Linked DNA regions of Homo sapiens. The protein of the gene in region 1 interacts with the protein of each later gene in a pairwise test. Each region holds a gene or a part of one and is shown in the gene's direction. Other genes may lie near its edges.

Evidence for each region.
Region 2: the proteins of OAS1 (region 1) and BBS4 interact in binary tests that used the Homo sapiens proteins (3 or more experiments, as listed by UniProt).

Annotation. Positions count from the first base shown.
Region 1 is NC_000012.12:112,902,607-112,909,970, forward strand, and holds the start of OAS1 (2'-5'-oligoadenylate synthase 1), read left to right. Parts: upstream 1-4,355; 5' UTR 4,356-4,433; coding exon 4,434-4,613; intron 4,614-5,929; coding exon 5,930-6,218; intron 6,219-7,364.
Region 2 is NC_000015.10:72,710,207-72,717,231, forward strand, and holds part of BBS4 (BBSome complex member BBS4), read left to right. Parts: intron 1-2,037; coding exon 2,038-2,101; intron 2,102-5,084; coding exon 5,085-5,196; intron 5,197-6,571; coding exon 6,572-6,644; intron 6,645-7,025.

The DNA of each region.
Region 1 (7,364 bases):
GAGTGGTGTGTAATTTCCTGTTTCTGTTTCTTTAAAGGAAACAATAATTTAAAGCCACCTGCAAAGGCATGAAGGCATAATCCTGGGCAAAAGTGGATTTGTTTCAACTTATTTTCTCAATCTTCTATGGGATCATCTCACTCTTAGCTAATTCTACGCAATGCTTGCCTTTATTGCATCTTTCCAAAGAATTGGATGTTGGTTTCCTAAGGACAGCTCTCTTTTGCACTCATCTGTTTACAGATATATATATTTAATCAAAAATATTTAACAACTGCAATTGCCATGAGGACATTTGGGAGCAAACAAAATTTTATTTATTTATTTAGAGACAGGGTCTCACTATGGGAGCAAACAAAGTCTTCTTTATTTATTTAGAGACAGCATCTAGCTATGTTGTCCAGGCTGGTCTCAAACTCCGGAGCTCAAGTGAGCCTCCTGCCTCCACCTCCGAAAGTGCTGGGATTACAAGCCTGAATCACTGCTCCTGGCCAGAATCTTTTTTTTTTTTTTCAGTTAATTTAGAAAGTTTATTTTGCCAAGGTTGAGGATGCCAACCCGTGACACAGCCTCAGGAGGACCTGAGGACATGTGCCCAAGGCAGTCAGAGACAGTTTGGTTTTATACATTTTAGGGGACATGAGACATCAATCAACGTATGTAAGATGGACATTGGTTTGGTCTGGAAAGGCGGGACAACTCGAAGTGGGGAGGGGGCTTCCAAGTGGTAGGTATATAAGACACAAATGGTTGCATTATTTTGAATTTCTGATTAGCCTCTCTGAAGGGGGCAATCAGAAATGCATTTATCTCAGTGAGCAGAGGGGTGATTTTGAATAGAACGGGAGGCAGGTTTGCCCTGAGCAATTCCCCAGCTTGACTTTTCCCTTTAGCTGAGTGATTTTGGGGCCCCAAGATATTTTCCTTTCACATTTCCTCCCTTTTCTTTTTAAAAATATTTTAGACAAAGCATTTTAGAAGAAAATGAGTCTCTAGTCTCAGGTTTCATCTGATTTCTCTTGGCTAGGATGGTTTATTACTATAGGGGTAAGTCCGGAGTTATTAGGAAAGCTCATTTTTAGAAGGTTGTAAAGTCTCATGTCCTGTGAAGAGAAAATAGGGGGAGGAAGGGAGAACACAACAAACAAAAGAACAATCCTGGAAAATCAAGATACAGGCCAGAGTATTCCGAAGTTCACACATCAGCAGATAGGTATGAAAGTGGCTTACGTCTGTAAATATGTAATTATTTTTTTCTGAGGTTTAAGTTGTCTAGCTCCAGTTTGCAGGGCTTTATAAAAGCACAACTTAGTTTTCAGTGATTCCAAATTAGGGAAAATGGGGGGAAAAGAAGGAAAAAATTTAAAATATTATTTTGGAGACTTGTAGCCAAGAAAAATTAGAATTCAGTCCAAACTATAGAAAATAATAAAAATTGAAAAACATTAGGCAAGACTAGAATGCAACAACAGGTGTACTATAGTTTTTGAAGCATAATCTTTCTCCAGTTTCCCATTTTTACTAAAGATGAATCATGGTAAGGGAGGAGACCACCCCTCATATTGTCTTATGCCTAATTTCTGCCTCCAAAGAAAGAAGATGTAAAAACTAAAAGGCAGAAATGAAATCCACAAGCAGGTAGCCTGGTGCCACACCCTGGGCCTGGTAGTTAAAGATCGACTCCTGACCTAATAGGTTATTTGCATAAAAAAGGCACTGTGAAGATCCCTGTCCTATTCTGTTCTGTTCTAATTACTGGTGTATGCAACCCCCAGTCATGTACCCCCTGCTTGCTCAATCCATCACGACCCTCTCACATGGACCCCCTTAGAGTTGTGAGCCCTTAAAAGGGACAAGAATCGCTCACTCGGGGAGCTCAGCTCTTGAGACAGGGGTCTTGCCCATGCTCCCGGCCGAATAAACCCCTTCCTTCTTTAACTCGGTGTCTGAGGGGTTTTTGTCTGCAGCTCTTCCTGCTACAATGGTATGACTGGTTTGCTTTATCATACTTGGCCTAATTTTTTGCATACAGTGCAGCAAGAATCTTCAACTAGTAAATGAAGTGAGTATTGCAAAGACAGCACCCCACCCTCATGGTGACATTTAGTCTTAGGCCAAAGTCAACATCTTATACAGTAGGAGTGGAGAGTGTCAACTCATGAATAATCTGGTTAAGAGGTTAAGGGTTTGTAAGAAAGATAGTTGGCATTTACAAAATATTTCATCCAACAAAAACAGGAAACACATTCTTCTCAAACTCACACAGAACATTCACCAAGACATATTATGTTCTGGGCTAGAAAACACACTTTAACAAATTTCAACAGAGATATGTTATGCAAAGCATGCCCTTTACTACAATGGAATTAAAAAAGAAACCCACAAAAGAAAGATAGCTGGAAAATTCCAAAATATATGGAGATTAAAGAACACACCTCTAAATAACACATGGGGCAAGGAAGAAGTCTCAAGAGAAATTTTAAAATATTTTGGGCCAGGCTCAGTGGCTTACGCCTATAATCCTAGCACTTTGGGAGGCTGAGGCAGATGGATCGCTTGAGCCCAGGAGTTCGAGACCAGACTGGGCCACATGCAGAAACCCCATCTCTACAAAAAATACAAAAATTAGCCAGGCATGGTGGCATGTACCTGTAGTCCCAGCTACTTGGGAGGCTGAGGTGGGAGGATCACCTGAGCCCAGGAGGTCAAGGCTGCAGTGAGCTAAGATTGTGCCACTGCACCCCAGCCTGGGCAACAGAGTGAGACCCTGTCTCAACAAAATAAATAAATATATTTTGAATTAAATTAAAATGAAAAAACAGCCTATCAAAAAGTGTGGGATGTAGTGAAAGTAGTGTTTAGAGGGAAAGTTATAGCATTGAATGCATATATTAGGAGAAGAAAGATCTAACTCAGAGAGGGATGAACAGGTGAGGCATAGGGGATTTTAAGGTAGTGAAACTCTTGCAGGGCAGGGGAGCCCCAAAACTGGGACACCGTCCGGGAAGGCTCTTGGCTTCGTCCAGGAAGGAATTCAAGGGTGAGCTAGAGGAGGAAGAAAAAGGTTTATTGAGGCAGCAGGGTTACAGTTCTGTGACTGTCCCTGCAGAGCAGGGCCACCCCATAGGCAGTGCCTGGAGAGCAGCAGCTCAGGGCACTTCTATAGTCACATTCATACCCACTTTTAAATACGTGCAAATTAAGGGCAGGTTATTCAGAAATTTCTAGAAGAAGGGTGGTAACTGGGTCATTGCCAGGGAATGAGTAAACTGTTCATGGTGCTGGTGCTCATGCCAGCCAGTCTTCAATCTGGCCCTGAGTCAAGCCCCACCTCCTATCTCAAAACTATTCTGCATGGTGCTGTAATGGTGGATACATGACATGTTATGTTTGGCAAAATCCATAGAACTGTAGGACACAAGAGTGAACCTTAATGTAAACCTTAATGTAAATGGACTTTTGTTAATTATGATGTATTAATATCAATTCATCAATTGTAACAAATGTATCACAGTACTGTTAATAATAGAGGAACTTATTGGCAGGAGAGAGAGCTTATGGAACTCTCTGCACATTCAGCTCAATATTTCTGTAAGCCTAAAACTGCTGTGAGAAATAAAATCCAACCTGGGCAACATAGCAAGACCTTGTCTCTACAAAAAATAAAAAATGAGCTGGGTGCAGTAACGCATGCCTGTAGTCCCAGGTATTCAGGAGGCTGGGGCAGGAGGATCCCTTGAACCCAGGAAGTTGAGGTTGCACGAGTCATGATCATGCCCCTGCACTCCAGCCTGGATAACAAAGCAAGATCCTGTCTCCAAAAAATAATAAAATAAAATAAAAATCTACTAATTGAAAGGGAAAAAAGCATAGTATAATACCATTCTTAACAAAAAGAAAAGAGACCTGTGTTTGTGTGTGTGTTAACATTTGAAAAAAATCTGGAAAGCTCTATATCAAAACGTTTATAGAGGCAATTTTGTAGTGTTAGAATCATAGATGATCTTTCCACTTCCTGGTTTTTCTGACTTTTTTTCTTTTTGCAGTGGGCATGTATTGCTGGAAAATACCACAGACAACTGTGAAAGGATTTCATCAACAACAAAAAAAAGATAAAGAAGGAAACACAAAATCTGTTAAATAAGATTTATGTTGGCTGGAGGTTAAAATGCATTTCCAGAGCAGAGTTCAGAGAAAGGCTGGGCTGCTTGTTGCTGGCTAAAGGACAAAGGGTAAGTTTCAGGAAGCAGAAGAGTGAGCAGATGAAATTCAGCACTGGGATCAGGGGAGTGTCTGATTTGCAAAAGGAAAGTGCAAAGACAGCTCCTCCCTTCTGAGGAAACGAAACCAACAGCAGTCCAAGCTCAGTCAGCAGAAGAGATAAAAGCAAACAGGTCTGGGAGGCAGTTCTGTTGCCACTCTCTCTCCTGTCAATGATGGATCTCAGAAATACCCCAGCCAAATCTCTGGACAAGTTCATTGAAGACTATCTCTTGCCAGACACGTGTTTCCGCATGCAAATCAACCATGCCATTGACATCATCTGTGGGTTCCTGAAGGAAAGGTGCTTCCGAGGTAGCTCCTACCCTGTGTGTGTGTCCAAGGTGGTAAAGGTGAGTCCAGGCCTGCCTGGCCAGGGGAGGGGTGGCTGAATGTGCAAGAGTTGAGATTGAGAATGAGAGAGAGAGAGAGAGAGAAGCAAAAACCTAGAACCCAGGGTGCAAATGTGAGTACAGAGAGCTGAGATCTTCTGGGATGGTGGTTTCTTATTTATCCACACAGCATGTTAAAATAGATTCTGGGGTGAAATCCTACATCCCTATTATTAACAAGTGACCCTCCCCCCTACTTCCCGCTGAAGTTTATGAACCACTGTCCTGGGCGATGCCCATTTCAGAAATAGGGAACTGAATCCCAGCTCTGGTAAACAGTTTGCTAATTCGTGGCCAGGCTAGGGGCTCACCATTTCTGCAGTGAAGAATCATATGTTTTGAAAGCAAATAGCACCTGCTGGCTGCAAGACCTTGAGCAAGTCACTTAACTACTCTGTGTTCCAATTTCCTCAGCCATAATCCCCAATACTGTTGCAGTCTTGCCAGTGCACCTTAATGTAGCAGCTTCTCACTGAATTAGTACCCAAGGTTCTTTGTCCTGCATCCAAGAAAATTAAGGAACATGGACACAAACGTGAGCTTGGAGCAAAAGTTCAGTAAGCAAAAGAAGAAAGCTGTCTCCACTGTGGAGAGGGAAGTCTGAGTGGATTGCCAGATTGCAGCTGAATGCAAAAAACTTTTATAAGAAACCACTCTCCTCCCTGTAACTGTTTGAGAAACTTTTTATCAGTAAAGCTGTGCAACTTCCCTTACCTTATGCAGCTGTGGGTATATCTCTAGGCAAGCATAAAGCGCTGCTTCTCTTGTATGTATAACTGTGGATTTGTTTTAGGTAAGTCCCACTCCCTGCGCCAGTTTCAGGCAGGCCGCTCCTCCAGGGCCCAGCCTTGACCATTTACCTAACTGATTTTTCCTCTACTTTCCCTCAATACCTCATAGGGCCGTGTAGATTAAGTAAAATAGTAAGTGTGAACCACCCAGCATAAGCTAGTCCTGGGCATCGTAAAGGACAATGGGAAAAGAACACAGATCCTGGAAGAAGGCCCCCAGGTTTGAATTGTATTTGCCACCTACTAGCTGGGTGATGGGGCTGATATATTATCTCACTGAGCATCCATTTTCCCATCTGTAAAATGGGAACTAATGATAATGGCATCCAAATCATAGCATCATTGTGAGCATTATAGGAGTTTAAGACATGCAATGCCTTCAGAACAGTGGCTAGTGCTCCATAATGTTAGTGATTGCTCCTGTCATTTTATTTAGGGAGGTTTGCCTCACTAAGCATCAATTATTATTTTTGTCGTCTTTTTCAGGGTGGCTCCTCAGGCAAGGGCACCACCCTCAGAGGCCGATCTGACGCTGACCTGGTTGTCTTCCTCAGTCCTCTCACCACTTTTCAGGATCAGTTAAATCGCCGGGGAGAGTTCATCCAGGAAATTAGGAGACAGCTGGAAGCCTGTCAAAGAGAGAGAGCATTTTCCGTGAAGTTTGAGGTCCAGGCTCCACGCTGGGGCAACCCCCGTGCGCTCAGCTTCGTACTGAGTTCGCTCCAGCTCGGGGAGGGGGTGGAGTTCGATGTGCTGCCTGCCTTTGATGCCCTGGGTGAGAGCTCCCAGCTTCTTTTTCTCCCTCTTCCCATTTCTGAGCAGAAATCTCCCACAGTTTGAGAGCTTTTTGCCCCAACAGGGCATCTCTCTAAAGCAGGGTGGGAGGAGATCTTAGGATCTGTCCCGGGGCAAGAATGAATACGGTCATGATCTATCACAGGAGAGACATTAAACAGCAAATTGGCATAATGTGGGGACAAAGACATTTCTTACAGAACATCTGCAAGGCTTACTGGTTCTGTTTAAGGCAAAATGTGTGAATTTTATCTTTCTAAAATCAGGCAGCAAAGATGTGGCTTAAAGTTCATGTTACTCTCATCTTTGTCCCAACATGAGATCTCATCAAACGTATGCAGCACGTTGGGAGATAGATATTTATAATTTGCAGGAACATTTGGACAGGAAGTGTAACCTCTCAGAGGCTCCCTTGCCACATCAGGAGAATTGGTAAAACCACACTACCTGTATCATATCATTATTTTAAGTGATAAATGATCATCTACATTCAGCTCTGATGAGTAATAGGTGTTCAAAAATAGGAACTTCCAGCCAAGTGTGGTGGCTCATGCTTGTAATTCCAACACTTTTGGAGGCTGAGGCAGGAGGGTCGCTTGAGCCCAGGAGTTCAAGACCAGCCTGGGCAGCAAAGTGAAACCTCATCTCTACTAAAAATTTTAAAACATTAGCCAAGTGTGGTGGTACATGCCTGTGGTCGCAGTTATTCAGGACGCTGAGACTGAACGATCACATGAGGCCAGCCAAGGATTCGAGGTGTCAGTGAGCCACGAATGTACCACTGCACTCCATCCTAGGCACAGAGCAAGAGCAAGACCCTGTCTCAATCAATCAGTCAATCAGTCAAAACTATGAATTTCCCAGCTGTATATGAAGGCACCTCAAAACACCACAGTGAACTCACAGAGGGACACGGAATAGTTTAGATTTTAATTTTTTGAGGGAAATGCGATGACATCTGTCACACACCGCACAAACGGCTACTATTAAACTGAACTTACTGATTAGTGGCTACTAATTAATAGTTGGTCATTAAGCAGTAATTAGTGATTAATTATCAAGTAATTAGGACTTAATTAAAGGAACTGTCACAGTTTCCTTTAGTCCTAGGGCAGCCATGAAAAAA
Region 2 (7,025 bases), on another chromosome or scaffold:
TTTTTTTTTTTTTTGAGATGGAGTCTCACTGTCACCTAGGCTGGAGTGCAGTGGCATGATCTTGGCTCATTGCAGCCTTTGTCTCCCAGGTTCAAGCAATTCTTCTGCCTCAGCCTCCCCAGTAGATGGGACTACAGATGAGTGTCACCATGCCCAGCTAATTTTTTGTATTTTTAGTAGAGATGGGGTTTCACCATATTGGCCAGGCTGGTCTCGAACTCCTGACCTTGTGATCTGCCCGCCTTGGCCTCCCAAAGTGCTGGGATTACAGGCGTGAGCCACCGTGCCCAGCCCTGAGTTTTATTTTTTAATTTCTCTCTTACTGCAAGGTTGATCATCATGTGTATATTTAAAAACCATTTGTATTTCCCTTTCTCTGTATCTTTGGTGACATACCATATGTGTTACAAACTTGCAGGCAGACAGTGGTAGTACTAACATGCAGAATGTATCCTTGGTGTCATCTTTTTTGGTATCCAGAGCTTTGTGACCCATCTAAGGTTTTTAATTTATACCCATGGCATTTATACCTATGGCAATGCACAGAACTAATTCATACTGGTATGACAAAGATTCATACCAGTTTTTTTTTTTCTTTTTTTAAGTGGAGTTTTGCTCTTATTGCCCAGGCTAGAGTGCAGTGGCGCAATCTCGGCTCACTGCAACCCCCGCTTTCCAGTTTCAAGCAATTCTCCTGCCTCAGCCTCCCAAGTCGCTGGGATTACAGGTGCCCGCCACCATGCCCAGCTAATTTTTTTTTTTTTTTTTGTATTTCTAGTAGAGGTGGAGTTTCACCATGTTGGTCAGGCTGGTCTCAAACTGCTGACCTCGTAATCCACCTGCCTCAGCCTCCCAAAGTGCTGGGATTACAGGCGTGAGCCACCGCACCCGGCCCATACCAGTTTTTTTTGACACCGCTGATCCGAAGGCAGATACCAGTATGAATCTTTTTTTTTTTGAGATGGAGTTTTGCTCTTGTCGCCAAGGGTGGAGTGCAATGGCGTGACCTCGGCTCACCACAACCTCCGCCTCCTGGGTTCAAGCGATTGTCCTGCCTCAGCCTCCTGAGTAGCTGGGATTACAGGCATGTGCCACCACGCCTGGCTAATTTTTTGTGTTTTTAGTAGAGATGGGGTTTTTCCATGTTGGTCAGGCTGGTCTCAAACTCCCGACCTCAGGTGATCTGCCCGCTTCGGCCACCCAAAGTGCTGGGATTACATGCGTGAGCCACCGCGCCTGGCCACCAGTATGAATCTTGAAAGGTTCTCTTTCTTTTTCATCTGTGATAATACTTGGAAATCTTATCACACTTTTCTTAGCTTGCCTAGTTAGATTTTAGACAGGGGTTGGCAAACTTTTTCTGTAATGGGCCAACAATATTTTAGGGTTTGTAGGCCACATACAGTCTCTACATCATATTTGTTATCTTATTTTTTATAACCCTTTAGAAATAAAAAAACCACTGTTAGCTTGAGAGCTGTACAAAAATATACAGGGCCTGTAAGCCCTGTAGTTTGCAAATCCCTGTTCTAGAAGAAGTAATCACAACAAGGGAGTTGAAATTTTAAGAAACTGAATGAACTAATACTTTACTAGGCATTATTAATACTCTAGGTTTTTTTACATATGATTCTTGTCCACGTCTGCTTTTTCATTACTATTTGTTTTCTTTTTTTTTTCAGACAGAGTCTCACTCTGTTGCCCAGGCTGGAGTGCAGTGGCGCTATCTTGGCTCACTGCAACCTCCGCCTCCTGGGTTCAAGCGATTCTCCTTCCTCAGCCTCCTGAGTAGCTGGGATTACAGACACGCACCACTACTGCCCGGCTAATTTTTGTATTTTTAGTAGAGATGGGGTTTCACCATATTGGTTAGGCTGATCTTGAACTCCTGACCTCATAATCTGCCTGCCTTGGTCTCCCAAAGTTTTGGGATTACAAGCATGAGCCACCGCACCTGGCCTGTCCATGTCCACTTTTTCTTAAAGACACCTGAAGAAACTTAACCACTGCTCAGAAGCATTTTTCTCCCTCTTTCAGGCTGTTATCAAAGAACAGCTTCAAGAGACTCAGGGATTGTGTGAATATGCTATCTATGTCCAAGGTAAGACACATACTTCTTGTCTTCTTGCTAGAGAAATACACTTTTCCTAGGTTCTTGAAAAAGATCAGGCAATTGAAGAAACAAGTTCAAGTACAGTCATGCACCACTTAACAATGGAGATATGTTCTAAGAAATGTGTTGTTAGGCAATTTTGTCATTGTGTGAACATTACATGGAGTGTACTTACACAAACATAGATGGATGATATAGTGTACTATACACATGATATAGTCTGTTGCTCCCAGGCTACAAACCTGTATGAGCAGGTGTTATACCGAATACTGTAGGCAGTTGTAAAACAGTGGTAAGTGTATCTAAACATAGAAAAGGTACTGTAAAAATATGGTATAAAAGATAAAAAATAGTATACCTGTATAGAGTACTTACCATGGATGGACTGGAAGTTGCTCTGGGTGAGTTAGTGGTGAGTGAATGTGAAGGTCTAGGACATTATTGTATACTAATGTAGACTTTATGTTGTATACTAATGTAGACTTTATAAACACTGTACACTTAGCCTACACTAAATTTATTTAAAAATATTTTTTCTACAATGATAAATTAACTTTAGCTTACTATAACTTTTTACTTTATAAACTTTAAAACTTTTTGGCTCTTTTGGGGTAATACTTAAAACACACAACAACATTGTACATTTGTACAAAAATAGTTTCTTTAGGTCCTTATTCTATAAGCTTTTTTCTTTTTCTTTCTTTTTTTTTTTTGGTAGAGAGACAGAGTCTCACTTTGTTGCCCAGGCTGGTCTTGAACTCCTGGGCTCAAGCAGTTCTCCTGCCTCAGCCTCTCAAAGTGCTGGGATTATAGGCATGAGCTACGACACCTGGCCCTTTATGCTATTCTTAAAACTTTTTATTTTTTTACTTTTAAACTTTTTTGTTAAAAACTACGATACACACACTACTACAGTGGTGGTACTAACATGTGGAATGTGTCCTTGCTGTCTTTTTTGGCATTCAGAGCTTTGTGACCCATCTAAGGTCTTTGTGACACACACACACACACACACACACACACACACACACGCACACGCACGCACGCACTGGTCTAGGCCTACACTGAGTCAAGATTATAAATATCACTGTCTTCCACCTCCTTATGGAAGGTCTTCAGTGGCAATAACATACATGGAGCTGTCATCTCCTATAACAATAGGAATACCTTCTGGAATACCTCCTGAAGGATCTGCCTGAGGCAGTTATTCTTTTTTTTAGTAAGTGGAAGGAGTACACTCTAAAATAAAGATTAAAATGTATAGCGTAGTAAATACATAAACCAGTAATGTAGTCATTTATTATCAAGTATTAAGTTCTATATATATGTAATTGTATATGCTGTACTTCTATGTGACTGGCAGCACAGTAGGTTTGTTTATACCAGCATCACTACAGATAGGTAAGTAATGCATTGCACTGTTTTGATTGCTATGACGTCACTGGGCAATAGGAATTTTTCCTCTTCATTATAATCTTAAGTGATCATCATCATTTATACAGCTGTCGACCAAAATGTCATTACAGGTGCATGAGTTTAAATGTTCCAGAAAGGTTTTATTCAGTATTAATCTTTTTATGGAATCTGAATATAATTACTGTGTTGGATTTGACTTCAGAAATGACTAGTAATGTTAAAAAATTGCTATGATTACCCATTTTTTAGTTTCTGGCTAGTGTTTTTTGGAATGGATGCTTAGGATTCCTGCCTAATGCAGTGATTTCAGGGCCAAAAGATGCTTTTGGAAGGATTGCTTGTAATCAAGCTAAAAGAGATGAAGAAGAGCTTGAGGATTTCTGTAAGGTGAATCAGGATGAGGGGAAGAAGCCTGGAAATAAACAAGATAAAGCAGAGCATAAATTCAGCTCATTAGAAACCAAAGATAAGGACCACTCACTTACTTTTTTTTTTTTTTTTTTTTTTTGAGACAGAGTCTTGCTCTGTTGCCCAGGCTGGAGTGCAGTGGTGCGATCCCAGCTCACTGCAACCTCTGCCTTCCAGGTTCAAGCGATCCTCCTGCCTCAGCCCCCCTATTAGCTGGGATTACAGGCACATGCCACCATGTCCAGCTAGTTTTTGTATTTTTAGTAGAGACAAGGTTTTGCCATATTGGCCAGGCTGGTCTCGAACTCCTGACCTCAGGTGATCCACCTGCCTTGGCCTACCAAAGTGCTGGGATTACAGGCATGAACCACTGCACCTGGCCCACTGACTTAAATTTTCCTCTTTAGTGGCATAAGTAGCATTCTTAGTTTTTCCAGGAACTTTCTTTTTGACTCTTGGGTGTAAATAAATGGTTTTGTTTACCATTCATTGCATTTGTAGTCTTCAGATTAACATATAATTTTCTGACATAATTGTTAAGATATTGACAAATTTAGGACATCATGGCAAAAAATGCTCTTATTCCCAGTGTCACAAGTATCAGACTTTCAGTGCCTGATAAATTCTTCTGGAAACATAGGCCTAGGAAAAACCTCTGGTTCTAATTGGTTGTTACACTGACAACTGAAGTCTTAAATGTTACTTTATCCTTTGCCAGAATCTCCATGTTGAATTTGAGGTATTGATTCCATTTGCCCCATTTGGGGGTTCGCTCTGAAAACTATCAGTTGGAAGTAAATTATGATAAATGAAGCATCTGATGGGGAAGCCCCAAAATGTTGTTAATGTGAAGAGTTTGTGTGATAATTTGCAAAGGAACTGATTATCTATGTGATGGATCCTGGGAGTAGAGAGAGAAGTAGGTAGGTTTGAGCTACCTTGCTAAAAGACAGTTGAGCTTGTCAGCAGTTTTGGTTGTTGTTTCAGCCTGTCCAAAGCCATATCTGATTGTTTTAAGGATACAGTTGTCCAAAGGATTTACTTGATGTGGTTTCCCAGTTTTCTCTTCTCCAATTTTTCTGACCCCAGGCTCCATTCTTCCCAGAACATGGTTTTACTTTTTTTTGTATTTTCTGTTTCTTGGCAGCATTGATATTTCGCCTAGAAGGAAATATCCAAGAATCCCTAGAACTCTTCCAGACATGTGCAGTTCTTAGTCCTCAGAGTGCTGATAACCTCAAGCAGGTGGCCAGATCTTTGTGAGTATTGGCAACCTGGAGGCCCTAGGGCACTCACAGAGAACAGTGTAAAATGCATTCCTAGGTCCAGCCTGCTGCTGGCAGCTGCATCAGCCTGATACACAAGTGGGGGAATGGTTTAATAGGTACAGTGGGATTCACTCTGAAGAGCATGGATTAAGTTTGAAATTTGAGAAAATGAGATAACTAGTGTTAAGGAACTAAGCATTTTAAACACTGTGCATTCTAGTTTGATGGGGGACCAATATTGTTTATCATGTAAATAGAGACACCTTGTACCCTAAGTCTTCTAAACTTATTGGCAATCCTTGGAATTTTTCTCATCTACTCTTCTAACACTTAGTATTTGTCACACAGTAAGTTTTTAGTAAGGACAGAGAGTTCCTGACTTCTGATGGTTCAACTTACATAATTTTTCAACTTTACAATGATGTAAAATTGTTATGTATTCAGTAGAAACTGTACTTCAAGTATCCATACAGCCATTCCGTTTTTCATTTTCAGTATAGTATTCAGTAAATTACATGAGATATTCAGCATTTTATTATAAAGTTGGCATTGTGTTAGATGGTTTTGCCTAACTGTCAGCAAATGTAGTTAAGAAAGTGGAGATAGGAACTCCATGGAACAGAGTAAGTGTTCTGAGCATGCTTAAGATAGGCTAGGCTATCTATGATGTCTGGTAGAGTAGATGTATTACATGCATTTTTGAATTACAGTGTTTTCAATTTACAATGGGTTTACTGGGATGTAACCCCATCATAAGTTGAGGAGCATCTCTATTTGTTGAGTGAATGTCCTAAAGATTCCTAGATGGAAAGAATCTCAAGTGTTTATAAACTACTAGGTACTCCCTTTTCAGTCCTTTGTTCCATGGAGTTCCTATCTCCCCTTTCTTAGCCACATTGCCATTCATACCTGTGTTGTTTTTGCATAGAGCTTGGTTTTCCCTGTTTCTCTCTAAACTCAGGATCCAATATCAAGGAAAGAGACTTAGTCTTGGAAGGAAAGGATGTGTCCCTAATGGGTGATGATAAATGATGGTAGTTACTGCTTAACATGGTATATCATTAGGCTTATTTCTTTTTTGGTCTGCATTTATAGTACATTGTAGAAGAAAAATTCCACAAGACTCTCACTAAAATTGGTATAGAATGAGACCAAGGCCTTGGAACAGCTGCCAGTGCAATCCCTACTAAGAGAGCTTCTGCTGTTAGTGTATAGCAGCTTCACTGACCAAACCAGCACAACCACCTCATAGAGAAAAGGCTTCTAGAATTCTCTGCTGGATGAAATATGATTAAAATGTGGGACTAGTAGGGTTAGTCTTCTAAGAATTTTGAGGTAATAATTATGGAAAATATATCTTTTACAGATTTCTTTTGGGAAAACATAAAGCTGCCATTGAAGTATATAATGAAGCAGCTAAACTCAACCAGAAAGATTGGGTAAGTAGAGAACTTTCAGTTCTTTCTTATTAGTAAACTTGCTAATGGTTCCATTTATCATCTGGCTGTCTTATTTCTGAATTCTTACATTCCAAAAATGTCTTGATTTTAACCTCATACTTAATTCATGATTTGTATAAGTATAGGATCAAAAACCATGTTTCCTCATAACTTTGCAGGCATTGCTGCATGATTTTCTAGCAGTTTGCTGACGAGCAGTCTCTTACCAGTCTGATTCTTGTTGATGACCCCTAGAAGCTTTGGGTATTTTTTTCGTCATTGGAATTCCACAGTATCAGCAATAGGCATCTAGTTGTGTTTCATGTCTTTTTCCCGTCCCCATCTGTGTGACATTCAATTGACTCTTTCATTCTGAAGACC